Regions from separate parts of the Homo sapiens genome. Here region 2 is linked to region 1. The links come from fine-mapping of genetic effects on gene expression. A gene starts in region 1. The other region holds a variant in brackets. All regions are shown on one strand. Distances are from middle to middle.

Evidence for each region. PIP is the estimated chance that this variant, and not a neighbour inherited with it, causes the effect.
Region 2: its variant is fine-mapped to the expression of GRB14 in spleen (GTEx, PIP above 0.99).

What each region holds. Positions count from the first base shown.
Region 1 is chr2:164,612,501-164,629,088 of GRCh38, forward strand. GRB14 (growth factor receptor bound protein 14) reads right to left here and starts at 8,982. Exons shown (of 14, transcript NM_004490.3): 1 at 8,619-8,982; 2 at 7,187-7,319. The coding sequence starts at 8,809.
Region 2 is chr2:164,560,313-164,576,900 of GRCh38, forward strand. The region is part of intron 2 of GRB14 (growth factor receptor bound protein 14); the gene reads right to left. It also overlaps the pseudogene EIF3EP3. Among named protein-coding and RNA genes, the nearest start is that of GRB14, 53 kb to the right of the region's middle. The variant C/G (reference allele first, on the strand shown) is at 9,564.

The sequences.
Region 1 (16,588 bases):
ACTTGTGGCCATTCTCTGGGGTCTCCCTTGAGCTGACCTTTATCTGTAATGTCAAAAGGACAATTCTCAGGTCTGCTTACCACCATTGAAATACACATAAGCATATACTTATACAATAGAGTTTATTACTATTTGACATAAGCTGACGTTTTTTCAAAGCAATATCCATAAGACTGCAGAAATCTTTTTTATATTAATTAAAATCCACACTTATATTGAACCATGATGACTCCAATTTTCTTTCTCTTGACAGAACATATTATATGCCCCAGGGAAAAACAAACCAGAAGCTGAGATTTCAATAACGTTAAAAAGAAAACCCATATTGTAGATAAAGCTTGGACTGCAAATGTACCCTGCAAATTAACCAAAAATTAAAGGCAACCTTCAAACTAGAAATAAAACCTTGACAAATAGAAGATCTGCTAGGGGATTTAAGTTTTAAAATAGGAAAAGAAAGCTAACTTCTCCTACAATGAAGGTAACTAGCATAAGGTGGGAAGGAACCTGAGTTGGTAATTCCTGTCATCAGGGGTTAAGGGACCTCAGTAAGACGTAAGCTCAGGAAAATGGACAAGGAAGCTGAGCATCCCTGAAGGGTGACATCAACTGAAACAACTGCCCAATAAGTATGCTTCACGTACATTAAGTGAATTGAGACAAAGGAGCTGAACACTCTGAACTGGGTACGTTAAGTCAAATAAACCAATTGGTGGATCATCATATATCATACAAATATGATTAGAATTAGTTTTTGTGTCCTGTTTGAGATCTTTTTTTTCCCCTAGGACACTAGCTGCCCCTAGGACATAGTGCCTCCATATGCCATACCTACTAAACCTGTACCTCTTTCTCACATGTTACCACACCCTTGCAGACTGAACAGTGGTCCAGGGCCCACTGTCCCCTTGGCCACATCTGATTGAATAGGATCTGGACACACTGGACTAACATACCTCTCCAGATACAGTTCCCAGTCAGTTACCAAGTACTGAACCACTAATAGGTGGAAAACTTGGGAGCAGCCACTTGAGGCCGCTGGCACTGACATGAAATCAGGGCAAGCAACACTGCAAAGAAATCTCAAAAATGATGTGAATTTGCAAGGAGAGGCAGAGACTATGTGGTATGTTTGTGGGAGAACAAAAGAGAGAGAATAGAGAAAGTGGTTGACTTGATTTTTGCTGACTTTCTTGCTCCCAATTTCAGCCTCTCATGAGACCAGTGACCTTTTGGCCTTCAGGTACTACAACACAGCCTTTCAGGCTGGTTCATTTGAGGCTCTGTTTTGTCTGAACAATCAATACCTGGCTAAAATACCAACTAAAGGCCATTTGTAACATACTCACCTTTGTCAACAAAACACAACTGTCCTCAGTTTTGAAAGGTCCAATTGCCCCAGTTTGAAAATGGTAGAGATTAAGAGTAGCACTGATTTGTATACATATCAAAGAGAAAAAAATATAAAAAATCAAATTCCTATAACCTCCCCCAGAACATTCCTATTCAGTGGGTTTTGCAAGAGGTCCAAGTATCCATATTTTTAATAAGCATCCCTGCTGATTCTGAAGAAGGTGATTTAATGACCACACTTTGAGAAGCGCAGCTGTAAAGCCTGCTTCAACACTGCTACAAAGATCTGCACGCTTTCAAATTCTCCCAAAAAATTATATTCATCAAGTGACAGCACTCAAAAGTAGCAAATTGCCGTTGGAAAGATAGATTTGTTTGAAACCCTAATAGGAGAGAGTATTGTTTCTATCATTCTTTCTGCATATATGTTTTGTTTCCAATTAAATGGGATTTTGTAAAATAGCTCAGAGGGCCTAAATACAATTTATGATGTTGTTTCCATCTAAAAATGAATTTAAACTTCCAAAGAGCTAATTTTCAGACATTTGAAAGCTAAGCAGTTTGTAATTTGAGAATTTCATGAGCCATTCCAACTGAGAAAATTCAATTATGAATGGTTTTAGACGATATCAAGGAATTGCTGTTATTTATGTTAGGGAATAATGGCATTTGGGATATAAAAGAAAATTCATTTTTCAGAGATGAATACAAAACTACGTAGAGATGCAATGATGGGGTGTCCAGGATATACTTCAAAATACTTTAGCAAAGAAAATAAAATTTTTAAAAAAGAAATAGATGGAGTAAATGAGGCAAAATCTTGATAATTGCTGAGTCTGGAAAAACTACAATATGTACATGGGTTTCTCTTCTTTTACTTCTATGTATACTAGAAAAATAAGTATATGAAATTTCAGTTAATGTAGCAGCCACACAAGATTCCTATAGGACCACACATACAAGTTCAGCATGTCCAAAGTGGGGTAATTACTGGCATCACAAAGGAATGATATAAGAGGCCCTTTAATTTGGGGACAGAGATCTGCTTATCCTTTGAAAGTCCGTGACATGGTAGAGAAAAAAGAAATAAAAGGCCGAGCATATGGAAAACTAATTTTTTAATTATTTGAGATAAATTTTTATTTTTCTGAGACATACAAAAAAAGGCTTAATTTAATAAAGAATACACTAGAAACAGTGTGGTAAGGGACAGGACACATTGAGACATGATACTCTTTTTGATCTCCCTTTATTTAAACTGTGGAAGCATGGGCAAATCCCTTCCAGTTTTTGCATACTCTTTTTGTAATCTTAAAATGCAGGTGACATACTCATTTTCTTGTGTTCCCATGAAATAATATCCTGTGGACCGTAAACCACACACAAAAGCTGGTTATTAATAATACTAATAAATCTTATTTGATAATAAAATCAAATATTTGATAGATTTCTCAGACCAATTTTAGGGAGAAGATGGAGAAGAAAGCTAGAAGAAAAAACGTAGTTACATTTCGGGAAGAAATAAAAAGAGGAATTCCAGGTCCTTAGATGAATATTAACAAATGGCGTTTGTCTCCCCTGTTCTTCTTGTGTTATGAGGAGAGTTGTAACTAACAACACTGGTACACATGTATTATTATACTACTCTTATTTACAGTCCTTGCTTTCTTTAGAAATTGTACCTTCCTAAAAAGGGACTGTCAAAGCCTCAAGAAATCCAGATTTCAGGTGCTGGCTGTGCCACATAGCATTCCTTAAACTCAATTTACGTATCACTAAAGAAGAATATTGGAATAGAAGATCTGAAAAATCCCATCCAACTCAAACATTTCATGACACTGGTTTTCATAGCATTTTTTAAATCTCTAAAGCCTTCAGAGGCTTTATTCTTACTTAGTTGTACAACATAGTCCTGGGAAGCAATTAACCAGAGCTACTACACAGGCTATGTCCAAGCACAAAAATTACCTAGGGGTCAACAAAAAAGACAAGAACTGATTCTGCTGCAAGAGCTAAATAAAGATTTCTAACTCTTTGCTTTCCTTCAAACAATAGGTGTTTAGGGTTCATTACTAACAGATGATTTCCTTATAAATTTAAATCATAAATTAGAAAAAAGAGATTAAGTTCATAATGGAAGTCACTTTTAATATAAGTAACTTTTCTGGACCATGTATGTAAGGGAAGGTATACTTTAAATTTGCTTTATTAGTAAACACAAAGAAAGATGCCTAGGAAATCTGGCCATCATTATAAAAAGAGGGAAAGGGAATAAAGAATATGAATTCTCGCGGGGCACAGGGGCTCATGCCTGTAATCCCAGCACTTTGGGAGGCCAAGGCGGGTGGATCATGAGGTCAGGAGATGGAGATCATCCTGGCTAACACGGTAAAACCCTGTCTCTACTAAAAATACAAAAAAAATTAGCTGGGCGTGGTGGCAGGCACCTCTAGTCCCAGCTACTCGGGAGGCTGAGGCAGGAGAATGGCATGAACCCAGGAGGCAGAGCTTGCAGTAAGCCGAGATTGTGCCACTGCACTCCAGCCTGGGCGACAGAGCGAGACTCCGTCTCAAAAAAAAAAAAAAAAAAAAAAAAAGAATATGGATTCTCTCTCACTCTAGCTTTCATTTAAAAATAATGGTACTGAAAGCCTACAGTATTGTACACTTTGGGACATTTTATTTGCAAAAAGTGATAAAACATATCCCATTTGTGGCTTCAATGCACTTTACCACTCATGCATTATGTAGGCATCTCAAATAGTAAACAAAATTTATGACTTGTAAGATGGTTTTTGACTGTGATTTTGAAAGGCCAGATGAAATTTAACATTTTTAGTCTGGATTCTCTCAAATTTTCTGGTCATTGATTTGTAAATAACAAGTACAATTATTTTCTTCACTTTTTCTGTGGAGAGAAAAGAATCACTAAAATGACTGGAATGGTTAAACAGGACAAATGAGAGAGAATATAAAGTAAAGAGACATCTTCTCCTATAATATTTCAACCATAAATAATACTCAGTAGAACATATCGCATAGTCACTTACATCATCTCAACTGAAGGTTACAGATAAACTGGGCCAAAAACAGCATCTTGTAAAAGGGTAATATGTGTTGCAAAGCTACTGAGTTGGGGGACTCACTTACATAGAGTCATCTATTCTCAAAACCTTCCTCATTTCAAAGAACTGAGTGTGTATAAAGAAACTAAAGCAAAAGGATCAGTTCTAAATGCAAAGTCTAGGTGGGGGAAAAAGGAAGCATAAAATAAAGTAAAAAGCAGCCTCCCTCCTCCTCAACTTTGGGGTACCCTTGTCTTCATAGAGATCTCAACCATTGGGCCAAGGAAGAGATCAGCAAGAAGGGCCCTTCAAAGGTAGGGACAGCCCTCTGGGATGGATCTTTAAAAATCAGGCGGGGACTCTCTGCTCAGGGAACAGTACAGGTGTGTGTGTGGGTACAGTGTTCTTTGAGAAGGTCATTGTGGACACAGGATACAAGGCCAGAGCAGGAAACCTATTGGGGTCAATAACAATATCACCTTTTCCCCATTTCCAGTTTGCTATTTTTTTTTTGCCCATTTTCCAGTTTAAACCTGATCTGAGGAAATGTCATCAATCTCTAAGACGTCTTACTCTAGTCTGATGACTATCCACACTTAGGGCACATCCTGCCTTAACCCTGGCACTTTACCCATTCTTTCTCTTTTGTCCCCTATACTAACATAAGCATACCAACACCTCTTCTCACTTTCTATTCAAAACAAACCCTGCATCATCAACAAATCTCTCAGACACAGGCATTCTGCAAGTGTCCATTCATAGCATTAAAGTGAGTCAGCCCAGATATCCTTCCCTTTACTTTCCTTCTGGTTCAGGCTCCACCCGCTACCACAACCCCAAATCAAAGCCCCATCTTTTAAATATATCTTGCATGGTATTGTTGCTTAGCTAGGGTCCTTACTGCCTAGGATTTGTGAGAAACATAGCAGGCCCTTAGTAATTTGGGAACTACCTATTAAATTCTTCCAGATGACCATTATGTCATCATCAGACATTTCCTTTTCTTACTCTGGCTCAAGGACAAGCCAGAATCTTTTTTTTGGGGGGGGGGGGGTAGTGTCAGCGGGGGACAGATTCTCGCTCTGTCGTTCAGAGTGGAGTGCAGGGGCACAATCTCAGCTCACTGCAGCCTCCGCCTCCTGGGTTCAAGCGATTCTCCTGCCTCCGCCTCCCGAGTAGCTGGGACTACAGGTGCAGGCCACCACACCCAGCTAATTTTTGTATTTTTAGTGGAGACGGGGTTTTACCATGTTGGACAGGATGGTCTCAATCTTCAGACTTCGTGATCTGCCCGCCTCAGCCTCCCAAAGTGCTGGGATTACTGGGATTACAGGCGTGAGCCACCGCACCCGGCCTCTTTTTTTTTTTTCCACTACCATGGCACACAGTCAAATCTATTATCCTTACTTCCATTTTCTATCCAAACCAAAAAGTCAACTCTCAAAGAGCTTGGAAGTTTCACTAGGGCTGTTTTTTCCTTGGGATCTGACTTTAAACCTCATCCTGATAATAAAGGTCTCAAGAGAGTCTCCTCTTTGTCTCCCCAAACAAAGTTACAGTCCCACCCACTTAAGGGTTTATTCCCCCTTTCAAAGATGCCAATTCAGAACATAGTTCTGCTTCTAGAAAAATTTATTCCCATTTTCTCCAATCCTTACCCAAAAACCTGTGTACCAAGTGACTTCAAGCCCCTCCCCCCAAAAATATATACACAGGGCTTCCATCAAACATATTTCCTACTGTCTCTATCATTTCTGTATATGATCAATAATTCATCTGCTTCCTAAGGTATTTCCTCCATTCCTAAAAATATAAACACACATAGTTGAACCCATTAGAAGCAATAAAGGTGCAGAAATAAGAAAGAGAGCAATAGACGCGGAAAAATGGCCAACTGTCTTGTCCTCGCTGTTCATTATCCTTCTCCCATTTCAAGTACCTGGCTATTTCAATGTATTGTTTCCACCCTTGTAAGAATAAGGTGCATTTTGTCTAGTGAGGCTTCTCTTTGTTTTGCTGGGTCAAAACTGGGAGAAAGTATATGACAAGAGATGAATTATTCTATGATACACTATTTTTTTCCCCTCCAAATGTACAGCCATGATGTATTTTCTGTTAGTTGCTTGGTCCTTAAAATCTAATTTGCTTAAGTCAATCCCAAACTAGAAAAGGAGAAAATCATAAAGATATGGTCCTTAGTCTTCTAATTATCACTACGAGTCATCTATCTTCTGCAGCCAGAGCCTCCAAACTGAGGAATCCACTGAAATGAAGACATGTTGACCCTAAATTCTAAATACCTTTTGCCACAGCATCACTATATCACTTTCCTTAGGTAAATGAGGTTGGCTTGGGTTGAAAATGTGAAAAATTAAAGAAAGTATTAAAGGAATCAGTCAATCCCCTTCTCACCCCACTACTACTGCCCACCCCGTCCCAGCCTCTGCCCAATTCCTGGCTTAAAAATGATCATCTCTTCTACCTATCTGGTGAATGATTATTGTTCTCAACCACTGCACTTTATATATATTCTCTGTTTTAATCCATCCCAAGACCCTCGGAGGTAGGTTTTAACATTCCCATTATACGGCTTAGAAGAATAAGGCCCTAAATGGAAAATAATGCCAAAGGACCATGTCAGTCAACAGAGTTATTTAACAGAGCCCATGCTAATCCTTTGTTAATACTGTAAATTACGGAACACCTTAAAGACTGTATGGATTCAGAACTCCTAAGATTTTTGAAATTTAAAATTTAAAAATGCATACCTGTTTTTTCCTTGAATTTGCTTTGGGAAATAGGTCTGCTGACAACACAGATGTAAATGGAGAACAGCATAGCTCAGGAAAAGGGTTTGGAATAGATGGCATTTCCGGAACATCAAGATCTTTCTTTTTTCTCCTACAGTAAGAGAACATAGGATGTAATTTACATAAAACAGAATGTAAAATATAATTGCTGTCAGGAATAAAAAGTGTGCTAAGGCGAACATGTACCACTCTGTGACAAGGCTCATATTATATAAAGTATATAGAAAAGGTCTGTGATGTACTTTCTATGGGTCAAAATACAGTATGTTAATTAGATACAAACAAATCTCCTATAGTTCCTCTCTTTCTGTCTCTCTCTCTCTCTCTCTCTCTCCCCTCCCACCACCCCTCCCCCCCCCACCGCCTTCTCTCTCTCTTGCCTTTAAATCACCAGGCATAGAAACTCCATCACTTTTGATAATTTTCCTGAAACAGAAAAATAGACTATACAATTACTAATCCAAACATCACCTGAGAAGTCATACATTGTTATGCATCCATGATATTGACAGTCTCTAAGTTGCATTTAGTGCATTCATCCTTATGATATTTTACTAATCACTTTTGGAAGTTATGATTTATTAATTATAGCTGTGGTTCATCTCACTTCAAATTTCATTCACAATGTTGCCCACACACAGTCTGTTGATTTTTCAAGCGCTTATAGATATTAAACAGCAAGGCAGTGTTTTGAGGCGGTAAGTTAATAGAACTTGCTAGTATAAATGTACTATAGTCCACTGGAGAGTAATTTTAACTTCACTGAAGTTGGAGCGCTTTGAAAATCAGGAAAAAAAAAGTAACATTTAAATGTATGAATATAAAGGACTATAGATTTTTGTATTGCTGTAACCCTTTTTCTTTCCGAAAGTATGTGCAACTCTAAAGGCACTTAGTGCTGAATGCTATGGAGATTGGGAAACCCTTTAAAGCCTCTATTCTTTCCTGCCGAACAGCAAGACTGCTCGAATGTCAATCCATGCTTTGCTTCTACAGGGTCGCTGTAAGACTCTATGTGGGAGGTGAATACATTTATGCTACGATTTTTTTAAAATATATAAAATAAAATAGAGTTTACTTTGTGAAAATGCATGGCCACGAAGGAACAGAAGGTGATCAGCCTGCAGCCTGAGCTCCTAGTTTCACCACCGATGGGCAGAGGCGAGAGAGATGAGAGCTCTCAATGAAACGGTGATGCTATTTATAAGGCGCTGTGAGATCGCAATGTCCTGCTGATCCGGTAGGAGCCAGCTCAAAGGGGATTGTCTTCAGAGACTTTTACAAACTTGGCCCAGCTCTGGGCACATGGCTCACCCCCTAGGACCGCCTCCTCACCCCCTCGCCGGCTGCCCAGCCAGGACACTCCCCCGCGCCCTCCAGGGTTGCCTACCTGTCTGCAGCACAGCCGCGGGTCCCGTCCGGAAGGGGCAGGAGCGCTCGCGCGTGCAGCCAGGGGGCCGGCGCCAGGTCGTGGGCGTCGCCCCTCCCCTGGGCAGCGCCACACACCTGGGCGGCCAGCGGCGAATCCCGGGCAGCCGCCCTGCTCGCGGCGCTCTGCCCATCTTGCAGGGAAGTGGTCATTGTCGCCGGCCGGGGGGCTCGGGCGTCATGGGAGACTCGGCGCGTGGGGAGAAGGGGTTTGCGCGGCGGGAGGCGAGGTGCCGGCTAGGCAGCCCGAGCGCTCTGCAGGTGTGGTGGCCTCGCCGCCTGCGCTCGGGGCCCCGGCGGCTGAGACGCGCGGCCGAGCTATCTGCGAGGCGGCGGGGGAGGGGAGGGGGCGGAGGAGGAGGGTGGGGAGAGGGGAGGAGCGGCCGGTGGGTGGGGGCCGCGGGCGGCGAGGCAAGGCGCGGAGGGGGCGGGGAGGGCGCGAGAGCGGCTGGCCGGCCCCGCGCGTGGCCCGGGGCGCTCGGGGCCACTGGCATTGCTCCCGCGCCGTCCCATCCGGGACGCGAGGCCGGGACCGCTGCCTCCTCAGGTGGGCACCGGGGCGCGAGGCTGAGCCCAGGGTCTGGGCGGCCCCGGCGCCGCTGGAGGCGGGGACCCAGCCGAGCGGGCGCTCCCGCTGGGCTTGCCGGGAGGACCGCAGGCGGGATAGGGGTCCGCGCAGCCCTGACCCTCATACCCTTGCATTCTTTCTGCTCTGCCATCTGAGATCACCTAAGCTGTTGCTGGGCCGCCATGACAGTCCCCACCGGGCCAGGAGGCCAGGACACCAGAGGGTTTGCCCCAGTCCTTCCCCACGTGCCTCTTCTTCCATCCACTCCGCAGCCAAAGATTGGGGGGTTGATAGGGAGCAAGGAGTCCAATCATTATAGAAAACTACTGAGATTTTGAGAATTCTCAGTAAAGCATGAGTAAACCTGAAGGTGTCTGGAATTAGAAAGACTATTAGTTTTATGGTAATGAGAGAAGCTTACATTAATGAATTCCAGGTTGCCTTACGCTACCTATTCCATCCTCTCAACAGCTCCATAAATTAGATGTTTATCTCATTTTACACAAAAGGAAACTGGGGCTCAAAGCCATCGAGTACCTTGCACTAGTAACATAGCACTAGTAGCTGGTGGAGTCAATATTCCAACCCAGAAGCTTCCTTCTCAAAAACCCAGACTGTTCGAAATAGTAATGACATTATTATGCTCACCCTCTGAGATGCAGCAACCCTACTCTGAAATGCTGGGTGATCCTGTTTCTGCTCTTCCAGTAAGTGTGCCCGTCCCTATGCACCGTTGAGGATTTCCAAATGTTTCACAGGGTCTTTGTTCTTTGACCAAATTAGGTAATATCTGTCCCTGGCATCTGCTTTACCAGGTTTTCTTAATTTCAACAACCTCTGCCCAGGGAAAGGTAAACACTGCCTCCAGAAGAAAGCAGCAGCTCCCCTCCCCCATCTCAGTGCATTCTCTCCCACCGAGGCACCGACCACTGGAGAACCCAGGGGTCACTAATTCCCAACCTGTGAGGAAACCTGGGGCACTCCGTGAAGACAGAAAATCCTTGAGTCACAGTTCAGGGAATCCAAGTTCTTTATTTTCCTAATGTCAAAATTAAGGCCCAGAAGTGACCTGGGTCACAGCGGGTGTGATCTCTGGGATCTTTTATACCAGGGGTCCCCAACCCCTGGGCCCTGGACCACACCATACCAGTCCATGGACTGTGAGAAACCAGGCCGCACAGCAGGAGGTGAGCGGCTGGTGAACCAGCATTACCGCAAGAGCTCTGTCCCCTGTCAGATCAGCTGGGCATTAGATTCTCATAAGAGAGCGAACCCTATTGGTGAACTATGCCTGCCAGGGATCTAGGTTGCTCCTTATGAGAATCTAACAAATGCCTGATGATCTGAGGTGCAACAGTTTCATCCCGAAACCATCACCCCCACCCCATCCGTGGAAAAATTTTCTTCCATGAAGCCGGTCCCTGGTGCCAAAAAGGTTGGGGACACTGCAGTTTATACAATACTTTGGCTAAGCTAGGACAAAATGGTGATTCTCTTTCTCAGGAAGAAAATAATAATACTAATCATGGTGATAACTAACATTTATTGACACATGTGCCAGACAAAGCCCTCACTCACATCCAGTTCTCTGAATTACAGATTCTATGCCTGAGTTTAAGTGAATTTAATTTAAAAGCATACAGATATACTGAGGTTATTCCAGCAAAAAACAAATGAGGTATGTAGTTGCAGACAACTTGAACTAAAGAAACAAAGAAATAAGTAAACTTTAATCATTAACATCATTATCCCAATTTTATCCAGAACTCTTGCAGGCAGTCACTTCTTCTAAGAATAATATAGTTGAGCACATGAATTAGTGGCTGAAGTTTACACTGTCTCCACTCCCAACAACACTCTCTCTCTATCTCTCCTCCTCACCTCCTCTCTCTCTCTCACACACACACACACACACACACACACACACGGCGGGGGTGGGACAGAGAGAGAGAGAGAGAGAGAAAGAGAGCACACTTTTGATTTTTTTTTTTTCTTGGGGAAAGGGATAGGTGGAATCTGTATATGTCTTTGGAATCACTGGAAATGCTATTCCCCAATGGTGCATCCTGCTCCACATCCTAGCATAATTGCCATAATTTCTTAACCTCAAGAAAGAGTATTCCTTGGCTGGAAATATATCTCTATTTTGTCTCCCCTTTCCAAGCATTCTCCTATTTAGTGGAAATCCAAGGAGGGTCAATTTGCAGGCTTTATGCTCGTCCTCTGACCCCAATGGGTAGACATTGTAATCCTTGAGATTACCAGGGGCAAAAAGAAAAGGAACAGGTCTCTGAGAATGAGAAACTAAATAATTTTTTCTTGTAGATTGGCACTAAATGTTAAATTTACTCCCAGTAGTACCTTGAGAATCTGTACCAAGAGTTTTTAGAATTAGCTCATTCACATTTTTGAAGCAAGTCAATAAAGGAACTAGGTTTTTTTATCCAAGTGGTTTACAAGAAATGATTCTAAATAAAGAACTATGCAGTATAAAAGGTACAGAATCCTGTCAGACCTGCTACAGCCTAAGAAAATAGAGGTATTTTTCTATGAAAGAGAAGTTTTAAAAGAGAAATTTTCATCCTCATAATGGACAGATTTCTGAAACAATAAAGCAGATATGTGGGTATCAAAGAGCAATATCAGTCCCCTGGGTGGCTGTCCGCCTTTTGGACTTGGGCCTGTAAAATTGCAGAGAAGCAGCTTGTCCCCTGGCCCCTTTCCTCTGAGGGCCTTTTTTACTCTTTGTCCCTCCCTTTCCTGTCTTTCCTCAGGAATCCCAGTCTTCCTACCCCTCCTGGAAAATGTGTCCTCATTGCATTCCTCTCTCTCTCTCTGCTCATCAATTAAATTTCTTAACCCTTTGTATTGTGAAAGATAACACACATACAGAAAAGAAGTTCATAAACAACAATGTATAATGGCTTATCACAAGGAAAATACTGATGTCAGGCCATGAAACAGATTCTTGTCAGCCTTCCGGAAACTCCTCTTTTGCCCCTCCCTTCAATTAAAAGTTAGTTTCTTTCTTGCTTGCTTGCTTGCTTGCTTTTCTTTCTCTCTCTCTCTCTCCCCCTCTTTCTCTTCCTTTCTTCCTCTCTTCCTTCCTTCCTTTCTTTCTTTCTTTCCTTTTATTTTGCAGTGTCTCTATTGCCCAGGCTGGAGTGCAGTGGCAGGAACATAGCTCACTGCAGCCTTGACATCCCAGGCTCAAGCAATCCAGCCACCTCAGCCTTCCAAATAGCTGAGACCACAGGCACATGCCACCACATTCAGCTCTTTACTTTTAGTAGAGATGAGGTCTCATCATGTTGCCCAAGTTGGTCTCAAACTCCTGGGCTCAAGCAATCCTCCTTCTCCAGCCTTCCGAAGTACTGAGATTACAGGCTTCAGACACCACTCCCAGCCCAATTCAAATGTTCAGAATAATCAAATCCTTCTTTTTGTTTATAGTTTACACCTAACTATCCATCCCTAAACAAAATAGATTAGGTTTTCTAGATTTGCTCTTTATATAAATGGAATCATACTGTTTCGCCCTTTTATGTTTGACTTGGTTCCCTTAATATTACGTTTGTAATATTCTTCCATGCAGTTGCAAGTAGCTGTAGTCTTTTTGTTTTTCTATTGTATGTAATACCACAATTTACTGATCCATTTTACTGCAGAAAGATATCTAGGCTGTTTCCAGCTTTGACTATTATTAATACTGCCACAATGCACATTTTGCACACTTCCCTTGGTATGCATAGGCATGCACTTCTGGGAGGTATACATGTAGGAGTGGCATTGTGAGGTCATGGTATATATATATGTATGTTCGGTTTTAGTAGATATCGCAGTTTCCCAAATTGTTTGTATTGATTTTATCACTACCAGGAATGCATAAGCTTCCCCAGTTCTTCACATCCTTGACAATTAGTATATTAGAATTGTCACAGTAGATAGACATTCTGGTGAGTGCATAGCAGTATCTCATTGTGGAATTCAACTTTTCTTTATGACTAATGAGTTTGAGCAATTTTTTCTATGATGAGTTGCCATTTGGACATCCTCTTTTTGTTTTTCTTTTTTGTGAGTTGGAGTCTCATTCTGTTGCCCAGGCTGGAGAGCAGTGACACAATCATGGCTCAGCTCACTGCAACCTCAACCTCCTGGGCTCAAACAATCCTCCCTCCTTGAGTTCCCAAAGTGTTAGAATTATAGGCGTGAGCCCCAGAGCCTGGCCAGGACATTTCTCTTTTGATGGACCAATTCAAATATCTTGCCCATTCTTATGATGAGTTGTTTGTCTTTTTCTTACTCACTTATGAGTTATTTTTAAGTTCTGTTTTTATCTTATGGTGTGAAGGTATATAGGTTGTTTTTATTAATATGAATAAGTGATATCACAGCCTCACTCATAGAAAAGATTATCCTATCCTCACAACTTTGCAGTGGCTCCTTAGTCATAATTCAATTGCTGATCTACCCATAGGTCTGCTCTGGGCTCCCTCTTCTATTCCTCTAGTTTATTTACCAATATTTATGTCAATATCACATTGCCGTAATCATTATGATTTATAACAAGTCTTAATATTCAATGAAGCAGGGCTTTTCATTCTGTTCTTCAAGATGGATTCTTCAAGATAGTCAACAGCACAGATCTTAGTCTTAGTTCTGATCTCAAAAGGATGGGTATTAAATATGATATCATATCTTTATCACAGATATCCTTTATCAGATAAGAGAGGAGAAGGGTTCCCTCATTTTCTTTGTTTGCTAAGAATTTTTATTATGAATGAATACTATTAAATCAACTTTTCTGCCTCTAGAGTTGATCATATGGTTTTTCTCCATCATTCTATGTATTAAAAAGTAGTTATGATGACTTTTTTTTTTTTTTTAGATGGAGTCTTGCTCTGTCGCCCAGGCTGGAGTGCAGTGGTTCAATCTCTGCTCATAGAAGCTCCGCCTCCCAGGTTCATGCCATTCTCCTGCCTCAGCCTCCCAAGTAGCTGAGACTACAGGCGCCTGCCTGTAGTCCCAGCTAAATTTTTCTATTTTTAGTAGAGATGGGGTTTCACCGTGTTAGCCAGGATGGTCTTGGTCTCCTGACCTCGTGATCCGCCCGCCTCGGCCTCCCAAAGTGCTGGCATTACAGACGTGAGCCACTGAGCCCGGCCTAACTGTGTTGACTTTTTTAATGGTAAACTAAGTGTACATTCATAGGATAAACCCTACTCATATCTATACATATATTTAATAAGATTGCTAATATTTTGTTTAACATTTTTGCACCTATGTTCATGAGTGAGATTGGCCTGAATTTTTCTTTCTCATAATATTCTTCTGAGATGTTTGTATAGGGTAATGATGGCCTTGTTAGAAGTGGAGAGTTTTCCCTCTTTTTCTTTCTTTAAAGAGTTTATACAGATTATTTCTTATATAAACTGTGTTATTTCTTCCTTAATAGTTAATAAAATTTACTTGTTAAGCCATCAGACTTTTTCTTTGTGGTCGTTTTCTTTGTGGAAAAGTTTTTAATAAATGATTCAATATCTTTAATAGTTATAGGACTATTCCAAATTCTTATTTTTTCTTTTTTTTTTTTGATGGATAGCATAGCTTTATTCAGAGTGAAACCTTCCTTTCACAGAAGAATAATAAAGGTAAAATAGAGGTACTCTTGTAGATCTGAAAAACAGCTTTCATGGGCTAGTCCAGGGGGAATAACCACCGGGAGCGGGGGTTCTTACCTGAGTGTTAGGATGCCGGATGCCCTTGTCTGAGATTGCAGTGTGACTCTCATTTCCTCCCAGGGAGCTGCTAGAGATTAGGACATGGGTGACAGGAAAGCTAATTGCCTCACCTTACCAAGTGGCTCTCCATAAAGAAACACTTACGGCAGACAAGATCACTTTGGGGAACAATAGGTCTTTCCCACTTATCCACACCATCTCGAGGAAAGGCAAGAATCTGCTGGGGAACATGCATCTATCCTGCTACCCCTTCCATCCTCAAGAAGACTCTTACTGGCCCTCATGAAAGTCCTCCCTTGTTCTTGATGCAGAGAAGTGTCTGCAGACATTTATTCCTGTGGTCTTCTGCTTCCTGCTCACCCTCCGGAACCAGAGTCAGGGGCTATTCAGACTGGCACAGCCAATGTGTCCTACTGAGGAGCTCCTTTGCTGCTGTGTTTTGAACCCATGACCCTCACCCTGAGCACAGCCAGTTGGCCCAGGTAAGGGTGGTGCTGATGCAAATGCAGCATCAAAAGGCTGGCCAATCACCTCTCACCTACAGATATTAGGTTGGTGCAAAAGTAATTGTGGTTTTTTCAATTACCACAAGTACTTTTGCACCAGCCTAACACAATCAGTCCTAAGCCTGAGCAATTCTACTTCCTAAGTATTTCTCCCTCTTTTCTGTTCACATCTCTTCTTTTTTATTATTATTATTATACTTTAAGTTTTAGGGTACATGTGCACAACCTGCAGGTTAGTTACATATGTATACATGTGCCATGTTGGTGTGCTGCACCCATTAACTCGTCATTTAACATTAGGTGTATCTCCTAATGCTATCCCTCCCCCCCGTCACCCTACAACAGGCCCCAGTGTGTGATGTTCCCCTTCCTGTGTCCATGTGTTCTCATTGTTCAATTCCCACCTATGAGTGAGAACATGCGGTGTTTGGTTTTTTGTCCTTGTGATAGTTTGCTGAGAATGATGGTTTCCACCTTCATCCATGTCCCTACAAAGGACATGAACTCATCATTTTTTATGGCTGCATAGTATTCCATGGTGTATATGTGCCACATTTTCTTAATCCAGTCTATCATTGTTGGACATTTGGCTTTGTTCCAAGTCTTTGCTATTGTAAATAGTGCCTCAATAAACGTACATGTGCATGTGTATTTATAGCAGTGTGATTTATAATCCTTTGGGTATATACCCAGTGACAGGATTGCTGTGTCAAATGGTATTTCTAGTTCTAGATCCCTGAGGAATCGCCACACTGACTTCCACAATGGTTGAACTAGTTTACGGTCCCACCAACAGTGTGAAAGTGTTCCTATTTCTCCACATCCTCTCCAGCACCTGTTGTTTCCTGACTTTTTAATGATCGCCATTCTAACTGGTGTGAGATGGTATCTCATTGTGGTTTTGATTTGCATTTCTCTGATGGCCAATGTTGATGAGCATTTTTTCATATGTCTTTTGGCTGCATAAATGTCTTCTTTTGAGAAATGTCTGTTCATATCCTTTGCCCATTTTTTGATGGGGTTGTTTTTTTCTTGTAAATTTGATTTTTTCTACTGTCAATTTTGATAAGTAGTATTTTCTAGGAATGTATCTCTTTCATCTAAATTTTAAACTTTT
Region 2 (16,588 bases), 52 kb before region 1:
TTTCTTCATTTTGTTTTGTTTTTTCACTTTTCATAGCTTCTCGCCAGAATAATTGCAAATACTGAAGTAGCCAGCAGAGGGAGTCTTTATTTCTCAGTTTGTGCAAATAGAGAAAATATCATGTTTCGAAAACTGCAACCTTGTTAAAACTATGGGGTTTCTGTTTGATACAATCACAAGCTTGTGACAAAGTTAATATCTATTTTTTCAGAATTAGTAAATATTTGAATTTTTAAGATAAATGATTTCTACATATTAAACATTAATAAGAAGGATTGGGGGGGCATATGTATATATACATATGTGTCACCTCACCAGGAACCTTTCCTGGAACTCAAACTTGGAGTTTTCGCTGGGATTTCGAACAGTTATATCAAATTTTTTCTTCAAATATTGATAAAACTACCCAAGATAATTTCAGTTTTCAAACTGCAAAATAATAATTCCTGGTATTTTCCCAAACAAAGCCTGAATGTATACGTTCAAATATGCATGTCTGATTAGGAGGCTTTCTGACAATGCTGTTCTTGCCAAAACAAATTTTGAATTCCTCTTTGAGAATTATCATAATAGCAAGCATTATTAATATCCTACAGGGGTAGAAAATCCTTATCCTTTCTAGGGGTTTAGAATCTGAAATTACCAAAAGTCTTGCTTCTTTTTTTTCCTGCCAAAAAAGAGATTATTATTTTTAATATTTGGCTTAGAGTTCTGGGGCACAGCCATGAGAGCCAGCCCTACAGACCGCCCCAAGCAGTAGTCTGAGACCGTTCATTAGCCCAGCTATTTTTAATCAGCCTTCACTGCCAAATGTGGAACATGCAGTACAGTGTGCAAAATCATGATGCCCAGCAACTGTACTCATGGGGGTTCAGCCCAGGTGTTCACAGTGGACAGGGGATCCTGGAATCTGCTGTGATCAGATCTCAGACCCCAAACTTATTATTAGCCATGAGTTTTAGACTCCTCATACTGTAAAATGGGCAAAATGCTGGCAAACTGATAGCACTCAACTAATGTTAGCAATTATTATTATAAAATTTTGAAAGCAAAATAAGGCATTTCTGAATAAGTCCCAAGAGACCCCTACAGTCCTGTTGAGCTCTAAGAAACTCTGACCTGATGGTTGAATCACTATGTCTTTGAGGCAAAACTGAGTGCACAGCAAGGAAAAGTAACTAGGAGAGCAAAAGGCAGATTGGCAGAAAAGGTGAGATTCGTCCCATGAAAAGACTACAGGTGAGAGGACAAATTACTGCAGCTACACGGTGATGAGTAGCTATGCAGTACATGTGCCCAGGCAATTCTGAGGGACAGCCTCCTGTGCTAGGTGGAGCAGAGGCCCGGACCTCTGTCCCACCTCTGTCATTTATGAGCGAGGTGCTTTGGCCAAGACACTTAACTCTCTAAGCCAATTTTCCTCATCCAAAAATGGGTTTGGCCACCAAGCTTTTAGGGTTCTTATGAGGGTTAAAGTGAATGTGTAATCAATGCTGAACATGTTGTAGCTGCTATTTTTTATTGTTCTTTGTGAAGGGCAATACTCTGTGTGAAGGGTATACCAAATTGCCCACTGCAGCAAGTTGGAGCTAGATAAAGGTAATGAAAAGGCCTGAGCATTACAGCTTTTCATCCCAAAAGATGAGAAACTTGGCAAAAATTAAAGAAAAGCAACAGAGACAAATATTAGGAAGGAAATAGCAGGTCAGTATCTAAAGAGCTCAATCTTGCCTTTACAAAAATTGTTTTTATCCAACTAATTGGTAATTAGATACCAACTTTGTGCCTTCTATGTGCTGGGCATTGGGGTTCAATGATGATCAAAAGTAACAAGTTCTCACCATCATACAGCTAAGGTTCTATTAATAGTAACACCACTTGCCTACTGAAGCAACGTCTTAATACTAGACCTACTTTTATCCCTTTCAAATATACAACCCAGAAGTCCCCGTCTAATACTCCTTAGGACACTGAAAGGAGGAGTAATTAACCACCTATCTTGTATTTAAATCTACGTTCCCAAAGATTTTAAAAAATATATTCATCAGCGTATATAGTTGGATTCATTTTTTTTAATTCAAATTAGAGACCTTCTAAAGTTACAGAAAGGAAAGCAGTGGGAGCAAGCATTTGAAAGATATATTGTCTTTCTCTCCCTGGCTGAAATCTATGAAGAAAAACCACTTTTTGTTTGACTCACTTTCTACTATGAAATCTTTGGATAACCACTTTAGGAGAATAGGGCACGGAAAGTTTAAATTCTCAGTCACAGGGAAATTTAAACTGTTTATGAAACTAGTAAAACATGCCATTTCACAGGTGGGGAAAAAGGGAAATTCATATTTGTTAGACTTCTACTATGTGTGAAATGCTTCTAAATATTTATTCTGTTGAATCCTCACAACTGTTCTGTGAGGAAGCATCATCATCCCCAAGATAGAGAAACTGATTCTCAGAGGGTTTTGAAAGAATGCTCCCAAAGCCAGGGCACTGGAGAGTGATGAAGCTGAACTCAAACTCTGGGTTTCCTGGCTCTAAAGCATACATATAATCTGCTACAACACACTTCCTAAAAACTCACTTCTCAGGAAAAGAAACATTTCACTAAAATGCAAATACCATTCATCTGTGTGACACCCTTCCTGGTTGAGTATGCAACTAAGTTACTCTGTACAAAAGTAAAAAGGGCAGGAGAAATATCAAGGTTTAGCAAGAATGAGAACTCTGGATAAAAAGCAGTAACAATGCCCACTACCACTTCACTATCACCTTCCAAGCAAGTCCACCATCTAAACTAAGACCACCATCCATGGCCTTCCACGACCCTCTTCTGCACAGGAAATCTGCTCTCTCCCCACTTATTACCATACCTACAATCCCTATACAAGTAATAGAATATTATTTGCTCAAAAAGCATAGCTACATTTCATATCTGGCACCAGAATAACAAAAATCCCAGACAAATATTTACTAAATGTCTAATATGTCCAAGGCACTTGTAGAGGAGATGGCGAGTTACCCACCAATATCCACCCTTCCTCTCTTCCTTCCTGATGAATCCTGATTCTGGTGAGGAGGGCAGTGTGCTACACTCCAGGCCCGCATTTCCTGACTCCTCTTGTATCCAGAGTTGGCCAACAAGATGTAAGCAGAAACTCCTGGTTACTCCACAATGGCACGTTAACTGGTATAAAACTCACGAGCCTGTTCTTGGTCCTTCACATTCTCTGTGCAAAGACTGTAAACAGGATGACTGGAAATTTACATTTATCTTTCCATAAAAGGAAAAAGGACCCACACTAGAGAAGAAATAATAGAAAGCGAGAAGGAGTTCAGTTGCCTGAGGACATTGTGGGGCTGCAACATTAGCTTTGGACTTATCCTTGTAAAGTGAAAGAAAAATAAATCTCTTTTCCTCCTTAATCCACAGTCCTTTGTGTTTTTTGGTTACATGAAATTACATTCTGCCCATAAATGACAAAACATTTTAAAGATTTCTTCCTTTAAAATACTAAGATCTAGTTGTAAGACCAAAAATCAAAAGACAACTTTTGGAAACCAAATGGTGGTCCAAGATATACAAAAATAAACAAGATAGAGCAACTGAAAGTCATATTGTACACACCTATGGACGGCAATATGACTTAAATATTATTTAAAAGGTAATAATAAAATTGATGTTACAGGGCTGTAGTGGTTGAATTGACAAATGAGTAATAAAGGTGGGTCCACTGATACTAAATCAAGGCACCTTGAAGATAAAGGTGAAGCAAAAGAGTCTTAGAAGGCTTTAGGATGAGAACACAGCCTGAGCCGACACTTAGGCAATAGACAGCATTTGGGAAAGCAAATGAGCCTGGTGTTGTCTATAGGCTGCAGAGCACAATTCTGGGAGCAGAAGTGCAGATATACAGATTTTAAAAGCCGTTTGAAGCCCAAGGAGGCAAACGATATGCTGCAGTGAAGGCTTCAAGGGAAGCTGGGCAGGCTGAGGGCCAGGCAGGCCCTGGAGCATGGCAAATGCTAAGGAAGCCTGGACTGATTTTGTGCATGTTTAAAAGATTCTGGGAAAAATAGTGATGTGATGATGTGTTCTTTCCTCCACTAAATCACTTTTAGAAAATCATAGCAATTAGTCTAATTGTATGAGGAAAGAAATGATTATAACATGAACTATTCTCTTATATGAATGGGGAATTAGATCTTCTCATAAATGGCATTGCTCCGTATTACACTCATGAATTTACAATTTTCAAAAGGATTTGAATCTTAAAAAAATATATGTCATTAAAAGTATCCCTTTTTTTCTCTGAGATTTCAGAAGATACTTCAGGATCTTGTGTGCTTATGAACATCTCCTGTAATTGTAGCATGGATGAAGAATGCAAAAATGTTTGCAAACATAACTTAAAAACAATGTTGGCTGGGCACGGTGGCTCATGTCTGTAATCCCAGCACTTTGGGAGGCCGAGGTGGGCAGATCACAAGGTCAGGAGATGGAGACCATCATGGCTAACATGGTGAAACCCCTTCTCTAGTAAAAATACAAAAATTTAGCTAGGTGTGGTGGCACACGCCTGTAGTCCCAGCTACTGAGGAGGCTGAGGCAGGAGAATCGTTCGAACCCAGGAGGCAGAGGTTGCAGTGAGCCAAGATGGCGCCACTGCACTCCAGCCTGGGTGACAGAGCAAGACTCAATCTCAAAAAACAAACAAATAAACAAACAAACAAAAAATGTTAATCTGATAGAGACATGAAATATGCCTGACCCACCGAATCAGGATATGGATGTAAGGCCTTCTGACCTGGTAGTGTTTCCATAAAAGAATGTGAATTTTATATTATACTTAGTTTATACTTTACAATACTTGAGCCTTATGTTAACTCTCCGGGACCTTAAAATGTTTTCTTTATGTAATGTGCCAATCTGGAGTTCCAGGTATAAACTGTCTTTCTATCACACACTCACACACACACACACACACACACACTTGGCTGCTTACAATTGCTTTCTGAATAAAATGTTTTCTATGCTAGAGCATAAGGGAGTTGGTGGAGGTGCAGAGGAAGATGAAAGGATTTGCCTAAGCTAATTCCAGACTTGAATGGCAATTATACCCACCATAAGGCAATTTCATTTCCATATTAATTTCAGGAGGTAACACGTATCTAGGAGAAGCATACTGGAAGTCACAAGATCTAGATTCTATTTCTAGCTCTGCCACTGACCTTCTGGGTGACCTTGCATAAGTCACTCAACACCCAAGAGACTCAGTCTTCTCATTTGAAAAAGTAAAAAGCTACAACCTAGTGATGATCTGAGAAAAATGCGATGAGGTAAAAGATTCATTCACAATGTTTGCTGAGGATGTGATCGTTTCTGAAGCACATGAGGAACGTTCTTCACCAGAACCTTAATTCACTTAAATCAGAGAAATCAGATCCTAATAGAATTTGGAAGTGAACATTTTCTTTCCAATTTACTTGATAGAGAATCTACCAAAATACCTTTCTTCTCAAAGATCAAGGCGTACTTTCTCTGCTACAAAATAGATCTATACCACATGAAGGGCCATGTTTAAAATTCAAGTTCCTAAGCACTACCAGAGACACTTACAGCCACTTGGATCAGACACACTACCTGATAAGAAAATTACTCCCTATTGCTACGGAGCATTTTCAGAATGCTCTCAGCCTTTTAAATGATTAGGATTCCATTTGATAAATTATTTGTCAAGGGCCACTCATTCAGGATGAGTGAACTTTACACCAAACCTGTGGAAAAAGCACCTGCCTTCATGGGAAAATAAGTTGCTCCCCAAATTCTCTGAGAAATGCTTGTACTGATTTATAAGATCATTTAAAATTATGGCATATATGGAAAATAAATTAATTACAAGTATGAAATAACTTCTTATATTGGAAGAAAAAATTAATCATGGTGTGACCAGGGCAGATGGATGATTTTTAAATCAGAAAATACCCAACTCCTAAAATAAAAGACATTAAGATCTTCAGAACAATCAAATGGGTATTTTCAGAGTTAAAATATCAGGAGAAGCACATAATGGTGTGCTAAATTATATAAACACCAAAATATGTGCACTCACTGAAAAAAATAGCATAGACTTGAGTCTAGGGAATTTTGACTTTTATAAATATTATAACAGAAACTTGACAAGAAGCTTATTATTAAAATACCACGATAAATCACAATGAGGTGACCATTGGCAGCTCAGATGTAACATCAATAATAACCACCGCTTTCCAGAGTAATCTTGTTTTCCTACTTGGCAAACAGTGCTAGAAGTTATTTTTCTAGCCAAGTTTTCCCATAACCAATTTCCCCTAGGCTAATTGTTCAAACTCCTTGAAAATTACAGCATTCTTTCCTAATGTTTTATAATAATTCTAAAATAATAAAAATAATTTACATATTTTACTATAACCATGAAAATATAAAATATTTGGTTCACAGAATTATAGACACAAATAAGACTGAAGATATTATTTACTGAAAACTCCTCAGTTTGTTATACAGATGAGGAAGTAAAGACTCCAAGAGTTTACTGGATTTGCCCAAAGTCACAGGGCTAGTAAATGGAGAGTCCAGATAGTACATTTTCCATCATACCAACATGTCATCAAAAACAAACCATATGATAGAAGTTTCTTAGTCAATCTAAACTGCAATATTAACCGGATAAAGAAGAATTCAAACATGAGAACATAGACTTGATAAATGTTAATATGCCTTTTCACATCCTCAGTGAGTCCAGGAACCTATATTGTCATTATTAATGCACTGCTAAGTCCAATTCCAAATAAAAGTTAAAACCCAAAGCAAAATATTTTTAATTAAATTTGCTTACAATTAGCAAAAGGCCTCAAGAAAGATAAAGAACTCATGTTGGCAAAATTATCATATAGCTGTTCCAATGCCAAATAAAATATTCTCAGTAAATAAATGGTTGACTGGATAAGAAAATAAGCTGAAAATCTAAAAATTAAAAATAGTAAAGAGGCACTTCGTTTTTAAAAACTATAGCCACTTTAACTGTTAGATTTGCCATGTTTCAAATAAATTGCAACATGACCTTTGACTTAATGGAATGCACTGATAGTTAACAGTTAACTATTAAAAGTTGAGTTCAAAAATAAACACTACAGTTTCTAGTGTCACCAAAACCATTTGGTAAGCATATTGCCAAAACTGAGTTTTAGTGCCTTCCTTCTCAATGCGACAGATTTGATTCTTTAAGAAGTCCAGTGCAATGTTCTTATTTTGGAGAGTTACAAGAAAAGTTTACTATGACTACATGACATGGTTGCATATACCACCTTGTAAAATGCAATGCTGTAAGTGAGACATAAAAATAATCTTTACAAAAAACTAATAAATAAAATATTTTCATACACAGGATTGACTGCATTAATAATTAACAGAAAGCCCTTTCACAGGGGAATTTAATGGAAAGTTTTTCTTAAGCAAATACGCAGAAGCTCAATAGAAATGGGTAGAAACCTGAGAATAAACTGGTAACACATGTTTAAACAGTAAAATAATTGTATAGTCTATTCAACAATGAAGAGATTGATATATTATGAATTATGGTGAAACAAAGAAACTATTCCTTAGTAAACAAATATAAGACATAACAGCAGATTTCCTACTGAGCTAAAAACAAAGAGGCTTGAAGTTACAGTAGAAAGAAAAAAAAGGAAAAGTTTCAATACAGTCTCTAAATCACAGTGACCTGAAATCGAGATCAAACTTCTTTTAGGTGAAAGTTTTTAACTATAGCGATGTCCTAGCGCAGTATTATTTTTCCTAGTTCAATTCCAATAATATGTCCTTTAATTTTACCTACAACTTTAATGAATTATAGGCTCTTTCAAGGGTATGTAAGTAAAGCTTCCTATGTATTAATAAACACACAGTAACAGGGGAAAAAAAGCAGCAAGAAAAATTAAAGAAAAAAAGGATAAAGAAGTCACATACCCTTTTCTGTAGAATTATTGGCGTTATTGCAGGCAGAGTGACTCTTCTTGCACTCAAACTCATGCCTGCTCTTCTTAGAATGATCCTGTCTCGTAGGTCATGGACAAAATAAAAGAAATCTTTTATGGTTACTCCTTGGGAATCTCAGGGCTCAGTGCAATGAAACAACTAGGAAAGTAATAAATGTCACCCTGCTTATGTGATTCCAATCTACCCAAAGCCAATTAAGGATGGCTGTGGGACAGGACAAGGCAGCAACCAATCAAAGCCCGGAAAACCCCGCCTTTGTCCTTGGAAACACATTCTGATACTTTTGTTTATGATATTTAAAGAACCAGATTAACAGGCATCTAGTTCGCTCAACTTTTTTTCCAAAACAGTGCAATTCAATGCCATCTTTGTTGACTAGGCAGTTATGTCTTTACTAAAGCATTTCAACATATGGCAGATAAGAATCTGTTTACATTGGTCTATTTAAAGTATATAAATATATTAATGAACTAAATTTACTTATGCTATTCATAAAATTGATGAAGAGATCAACTGGAACATACACAAGGCACAAAAAATAATCCTGAGGTTAGAATTGGCACAAAGTGTTAATTTCTATGGTATAATAAAAGAGTTTTAATATATATTAATATCTTTCATTTCCTAAACATTAAAATTTTTGTATTATAAGCCTTCCAGCTATCCTTGATATCACACACTGTTAAATATTATTTTAACAATAAACCTAAATAATAGTATTAAATACAAAGAGGGGATTAAACTACAATATATCAATCTCAAATACTTATGTTTTTAAAAAGCACAAATGTGTGTGATGTAGCATATTTCATTCCATTAAAAGCATTTAAAAAATAACCACTGCCAAAACTTTCTCAAAATTTTAATGACCATTTTGCATTTCTTCTCATAAAAACTGAAAAGTTTATTCTAATGTTTCTAGGGGAGGGAGGCTGGAGGAGGTTTACAATGGAAAACATCTATAACTAACAAGAAAAATTTCAATGAAGTCTAAATAAAAAATGAAAGAAACACTCAAAAATGACAAAAAGGATTGCAACGTTAAAACTAATCTGAGCTTTTACAATTGTAAAATCTCTTCTGGACTGACATCTGGACAAGCTTCACTGAACTGCTCAATGCTCTTCAATCCTGACCCACTGCCTTCAGCGGGAGAAGAACTGGTAATTTCCAGATTACAATGTGGTTGTTGTAGTAACAAGGCAAAATGGAAGATACTCAGCAACACAGACACAAACTTTCCATTTCGTTATCTTGACTGCTACTAGGCAGTGTTCACTTTACTGCTTTATACATAAGTGAGTTTAATATGCATGGTGAGCTCATATTCCTCAAAAGAAAAAAGAGACACTACAACTCCAAGGATCCCTGCTTTGAATTTCAAAACCAAAAATCCCTCAGAATGGTAGTTGGGAGTGGCAGTAATGCGCTTAATATAAAAAGTCACAGATCTATTTTGGAGGCATTAATTAATTTGATCCTTATCCAGTTAGGTTTATCATGATCTTTTAAAAGAAAATTACCAAGAAAG[C/G]AAATACCAACTAATACAGCGATGGGGGGTTAGCATTTGTGAAGTAAAAGATTCTGTTCTAACCTTGAGCTACTTTTCAGCAAGCCAACAATAACAAAGACCATGGTAACAAATAATTTCAAGAATATCACCCATAATATTTGGCCTTATCTGTCTTCTTTTCTCAATTTAGCCTTCAAATATTACAAAGTGTTATCTCTGCATCCTGGCTAACACTGTGAAACCCTGCCTCTACTAAAAATACAAAAAATTAGCCAGGCATGGTGGCACGTGCCTGTAGTCCCAGCTACTCGGAAGGCTGAGAGGCAGGAGAATTGCTTGAACCCGGGAGGTGGAGGTTGCAGTGAGCCGAGATCGCGCCACTGCACTCCAGCCTGGGTGACAGAGCAAGACTCCATCTAAAAAAAAAAAAAAAAAAAAAAAAAGTGTTATCTCTGGTCTCAAAAATTTTACTGGGGTTCCATCATAATGAAAGTAATTCATTTCACTAAATTATCAAGCAAAGTACTATTTGCCAAACCCTGTATCAGGCAGTAGGAACACACTATTATTAAGACAGTTAAGGTCACTGTCTCATAGTGGAATAGAGATATTAATTTTTAAGTTAAAATATCCCATTCAGTGGTAAGTTGAGACTAACAGTGATTAAATGCTAAGTATCAAGGGTGCACCAAGGTAGAAGCAACTGCACAATAGGGGTAAGATCAGGGCAGGCTGCAAGAAGGAAACGGCACTTGCTTTGAAAAGTGAATAGAGGTGAGGAATATGCAGAACTTGAAAACTGATGTGAACACAGGGTCAAGGTCTCAAAGTTTACTCTGAGGTTTGAAGTCTAGATGATGGGGAAGTTAGAAATGCTGTTTTGTATCACACCATAAAGCCTGTTAAACACTATGTATAAAATGAACGCTTCAATTCAAAACAGTATCCAGGTCCTGTATAGATTACAGTGCAATATATACATGCCCTAAAAGGGCTTAAAAACACTTAATAGATGACTAGCTGTTTACGTGTGTGTGATAGGTCATCCCTTCAGAACACTGGAAAACTAAGTTTCTAAATTTTCAGGGAAAATTATGAAGAGCAAAATTTGGCATTTTGTGACTATGTTATCAAAAAGGCAAATGTCTTTGAAAAATGAAGCTTACCGATACTTTTCATAGTCAGCAGACTGAACAAGATAGCACCCTGCATACTTAAGACAGGTGGAATCTCATTTTTCTGTAATCCTTTGCAGGTGCTCATATTGACTGTGCTTTATCTTACTTCCTAGTTATTTTAGACACTGATTCCAAATTTAACTTCAGCCTATTCTTTTTTCTCATTAATTATTATAAATGACTTTGCCACTCACTAACCTTGTCACTTGACCCTTAATTTTCTTCAGTTGCAAAAATGAGGATAAAAAACTATGACCAAAACTTTCAGAACTGCTGTGAGGATCAAAGGAAATCAAGTTTGCAGAAGGCCTGGAAGAGCCCAAGGCAGACACTAACAAAACACTCCTTAAACTCCCGCTGCAGAGAATTGGTCTTTTATCTCCAAAAACGAAACTAACATTATAAGATGTTTTTAACACAACAGAGTCAACAATAAAATATTACAGAATAGCAGTGTACATTATTTAGAATTTTATTTGATAATTGGATAGAACAAGAGTAAATGTGTCACTTAAAATATTTTCATATCAATATTTCAATTAGGAAAAATAAAAATAACTATTATTGTGATTATCAATAATATTTATGTGAGCACCCATTATGTGCCAGGCACTGAGCTAGTTTTCACTTAATGCTCACAACTCTATAAGGTACTAGCTATTGAATAGATGAGGAAATTAAGGCCAGAAGAGCAGGCAGCTAAGAAATGGTCTTGGGTTTAAGCACATACTGCAAAAGAACTTGACCAAGTTCACAAAGTCCATAGCCACTAAGCCAGGGAGAAAACTGTAATCTGGCTCTCTCCAAGGCACCCCACTATTCCACTCTACAACATGTGTTTCCACATTTTATTATTAAATACATAGCTTGATACATTAGCATAAAATGTCACATTCATACAGCCCTTGTTCCTGACGTACCCAAGCATTTGTTTGATTAACCTGCTTTATAAATATGTATTGAAGACCTTACTATGTGTAAAGTGCTGTGCTGTTTATTATGGAGAATTCAAAGTTAATCAACTCATGACTCCTCTTTACCAAAACAGCTGATGCAGGGTGACACATAAACCATCAGTTATTATAGTATACAAAGTGGAATCTGGGCAGAAGAAAAATGCTATTAGGTTGGTGCAAAAGTAATTGGGGTTTTTATTATTGAAAGTAATGACAACAACCGCAATTACATTTGCACCAGTCTAATACAAAAGTACCATCCAACCTCTAGGTTTCAAGTCCCCCTTTCAAATCTCTTCTCCCACTCAACTTCAACGAAGCTCCCAAAAGCATGTTCTGTATTCCCACCTCTTTGTTCATAATGTTCCTCAGTTCATTAAGCCCCACAATGAAGGCCCAAGGCCAGTCACACCTCTTCTGAAAATTTCACTTCTGTGCATCTTTCAAGGATCTCTCCTTTTTATATACAAGTTATGTCAGAATTGAGAGGTGGGGAAGGAAGGAAAGATGACAAACACATATCAATTGCCCATTAAGTGTTAAGCACTTTGCATATGTTATTTCATTTTATTCTAACAGCCCTGCAAAGTAAGTATTATTTCATCTCATTTTACAGATTCAAACCCTACCTGTCCTTGCAATACTACCACTTTATTCTTTCTCATACACCAGTTTATTCAAACTTCAGCTACTGTCTCCTATGTGGATGCATTCTATATTATTTAGAATGGAGGTTCCTTGAGGGCAGTGGCATGTCTAACTTCTCTCTGACCATCTCAGTGTCTATCTGACTGTATAAAGCCCCCAGTGGCTTTATACAGAGAAAAAAAAGCAATAAGGAGATGTTTCTTGAATATCAAGTCCTACAAATACTTTTTTAATCCAGCCAATCTCCTGCCTCACACAAAATACAACTTGCACTGTCCTTTCATCTTTCCCTGTATCTCACACTATTGTGCTGTGCCCCCTTGGGATAACTCATTGCCTAGCTAGGTTCATCATCTCTCTCAAAGACATAGATCAAAATTTATTCCATCAAGCAGCCATCCCTCCATATAAATCATATCACTCCCTGTTTTGTAATTTTTTTTAGGACTTAAACTTTTCCATTTCTCCTTTCTTGCCTGAGACTTACTAATGCATTGTTTTGATAACTTATAAATCCTTCAACAGGCTCTACTTTTTCCACTCAACACAAATATAATCCTTAAGGTTAGGACTGAGTCTCTTAGTTTCTCTGCTTCTCCCAGAATACCTAGCAGAGTGTTCTTTGTACACAGTAGGCCTTATGTTCACATACAATCAATGTGGAAAGACTAGTCACTCCGGTTACATAGTGGACAAGCCTCCTTTCTCATCTTAACAATTGTTAGCCTTATGATTTTTTTCTGAACAAAAGCACAAAGTCTTCTTTACAGGAAAATGTAGATATTCTTTCACTATCTGACACAGCTCTATTAGTGACCACTAGTGTGAACACTAAATCTAAATGTTGTCTTGAGAACACCAGTCTCAGAAAATTCTTTTTTTTAAATGAATCAATTTTATTCCAATTCTTCAAAATTTATACGTAATATGTTGTTTCCAAAATGTAAGTCACCCTTTATATAATAGTTTTATTATTTCATCTTTCTTTAATAGTTTTTTTTTCATCTTTTCTTTATGGTTCTTCAGTAGAAGCCAGAATCTTGAGTTGCCCAGTTAGGAGCCTCTGACCTGCTATTCTAATTAAGTTTCTTCTCAATATTCATGCCCGTCTCTTCATATTTGAGACTTTCTGTCGCATCCACCAGTGTATCAGCATTAACATGTTGGCAGATAAATTGAACATGACTCCAGAAGAAGCTGAAAGGTGGATTGTAAATTTGATTAGAAATGCAAGACTGGATGCCAAGATTGATTCTAAATTAGGTCATGTGGTTATGGGTAACAATGCAGTCTCACCCTATCAGCAAGTGATTGAAAAGACCAAAAGCCTTTCCTTTAGAAGCCAGATGTTGGCCATGAATATTGAGAAGAAAATTCTTAACATAGATTGTTGCAGCAATAAATATGTAGCCTAGATCTTCAGAGGTAAATTCAGAAACTCTGGTTTTACCAGCTCATCATACTCTACTATGAATTTTCACTTCCTTAAGTAAATGACATAGAGTCAGTCTTTACAGTTGATGAGCTGATCTGATCCACCACTAGCCATTTTTTCCCCTCCACTCTAACAGTGAAGTAACCAAATTGAGAGGAAAAATTATCTTTTTTTTTTTTTTTTTTGAGACGGAGCCTCACACTGTCACCCAGGCTGGAATGCAATGGTGCGATCTCAGCTCACTGCAACCTCCGCCTCCCGGGTTCAAGTGATTCTCCTGCCTCAGCCTCCCGAGTAGCTGGGACTACAGGCATGCACTACCATGCCCAGCTAATTTTTGTATTTTTAGTAGAGACGGGGTTCACCACGTTGGCCAGGATGGTCTCAATCTTTCGACCTGATCCGCCCACCTTGGCCTCCCAAAGTGCTGGGATTACAGATGTGAGCCACCATGCCCAGCCAGAAAAATTATCTTAAATTTAAGAAACATTAGACAGAAAATGAAATCCGCACAGAAGAAAACCAAAACAGCAGAAAAGAATAAATAAAATATAAGACTTTTTTGTAGTCAAAACTTATTGATCGTTAGGCATGGTGGCTTATGCCTGTAATCCCAGCCATTTGGGAGGCTGAGACAGGAGGATGGCTTGAGGTCAAGGAATTTGAGATCAGCCTGGACAACAGAGCAAGACCCTGTCTCTCTACAAAAAATAAAAAAATACGGCCAGGTGTGGTGGTGAGCACCTGTAGTTCCATCTATTCAAGAGGCTAAGCCAGGAGGATTGCTTGAGCCCAGGAGTTTGAGGCTGCACTCCACTGAACTCCAGCCTGGGGAACAGAGGGAGACCCTATCTCAAAATGAAGAAAAAAAAAAAAAACTCAGTGAAAGTCACATAGTTCCCCAGAGAAACAGTCAACACTAAGACACTTCCTAGTAAAATTACTGAAACATTTTGAACAGCAAGGCAAAAGTTTTCTAGTAGCTTGTTTTAAGGCAGGAATCAGTCTGTTGTCAAATCTCTCCACAGCAACATTCAACAGTCAGATTCAGTGGACACCACTGCCCTCTAGATACACCACTGGATGCAGTAATGTGCATGAAATCCTTGAAAAAAGAAAATACAAATGAGATTTTTAAATTCAATCAAACTCATTAATTATAAAGGCAACGGACAATGTTCAAAATTTTGAACATATTACAAATATATAAAATCTTGTTTTCATAGGATCTTCTTGAGGAATTTACTAGAAGATAAATTTTAGTCATCCAAGTGATTGTAAAAACCTGAGTGAAATAACTGAAATAAACACTGAAATCAATCATGGTACTAAATTCCAATCATGTATGTGATTATGTTGCTATAATAAAACGTAAGTAATATGAGCCATAACAATTTAAGAATCGTTATGAAATTTCAATATGAAAATATGAATGATAAAATTTTTCAAAAAGATGAAAGCTGAGGGAGCAAGGACATGGTATGCAGTATATACTATATAAACTGACTGCTTTGCTAACTAAGATCAAAAAGATATTTTAAACTGATAAATCATAGGAGAATTCTAAGTAATTTATTTTATAATGCTAAGGTCAGCTGGTAGAAAAGGGAGGATGAAGAGGAAACATCTGCAGAAAGGAATAATAGATCATTTTTAAGGAAATAAGAGGATTAAGAACTTTCCTACAGTTACATTTATAATCATAACAGAAATATAAACTTTTCTAATAAAAAGAGCAAACACAAAGCTAAGAAAGCAGAACATCTTGTGAATTTTTTTCAAAAATCTATAAATTGGAAAACATAAAATAACAGTACTAATGCTAAACTTTTATGTTATCTCAGAGATGTTGCAGAGCTAAACTCACCTATTGAAAGAAAAACATTCAGTTGAATCATAAGACAGATTCTGCTCTATTCTATGGGAAAGAGAACCCTCTATAACCAAGTGTTTCATCAAGTTGCCTGTTCATAAGAATAGGCAAAAGCAAATAGGACAAATAAAAATAAAAAGGAAGAAAGGAGCAAGGAAGAAAACACTATAATGCTAAATGGTGTAATTCACAGTAAAAATAAAATGATTATAAACGTCTCGGTGTCATATAGTACACATTTGTAAAGCAAACTCTAAAATAGGTATAAAGATAATCAGATGGAAACATACTATTAATTGACTGTTATCCAACCTTCTCAAAGCCTGAATAACAAGAGAATTAAAAAGTAGGTATAAATATAAAATATATAAATAGGGTAACATAATAAAATAGATTTAATTGCCATATATTTAACTTTAAGGTGAAATCAGAGAATATCCCTTCTGTTTAAGAAATTGGTTTAAAAAAAAACTTGATCACATTGGACATCAAAGATAAAACCCCAGTAAATTCCAGAATACAGATAATAGTTACTAATCACAATACAGTAAAAGGAAAAATCACTAATCAATCTGGGGTTAAGAAGCTCCTAGCATCTGAAAATTTTAAGACTCTTCAAATAACTCTTCTGGCAAAGAAAACAATGAAAATTGAAAGTGTAAAATGTCTATGTAATAATAATAAATATAATAAACACTATATATCATATCTCATACTGCTAAAACAATTCTCAGACTCTAATTCATAAGCTTAAATACAGGTATATTAAACAAAAATAAATTTACTAACATCCCAAAATTTTAAAAAAATTATTAAATTAAACCTAAGGAAATCAGAAAGAATAAACTAATAAATATAAAAGTAGAAATTAAAACTTGAAAAAAAAAGGTAAAATGATAAAACTAATAAGTTCTGAATCTGGTCTTTGGGGAAAACAATAAAACAGATAAATA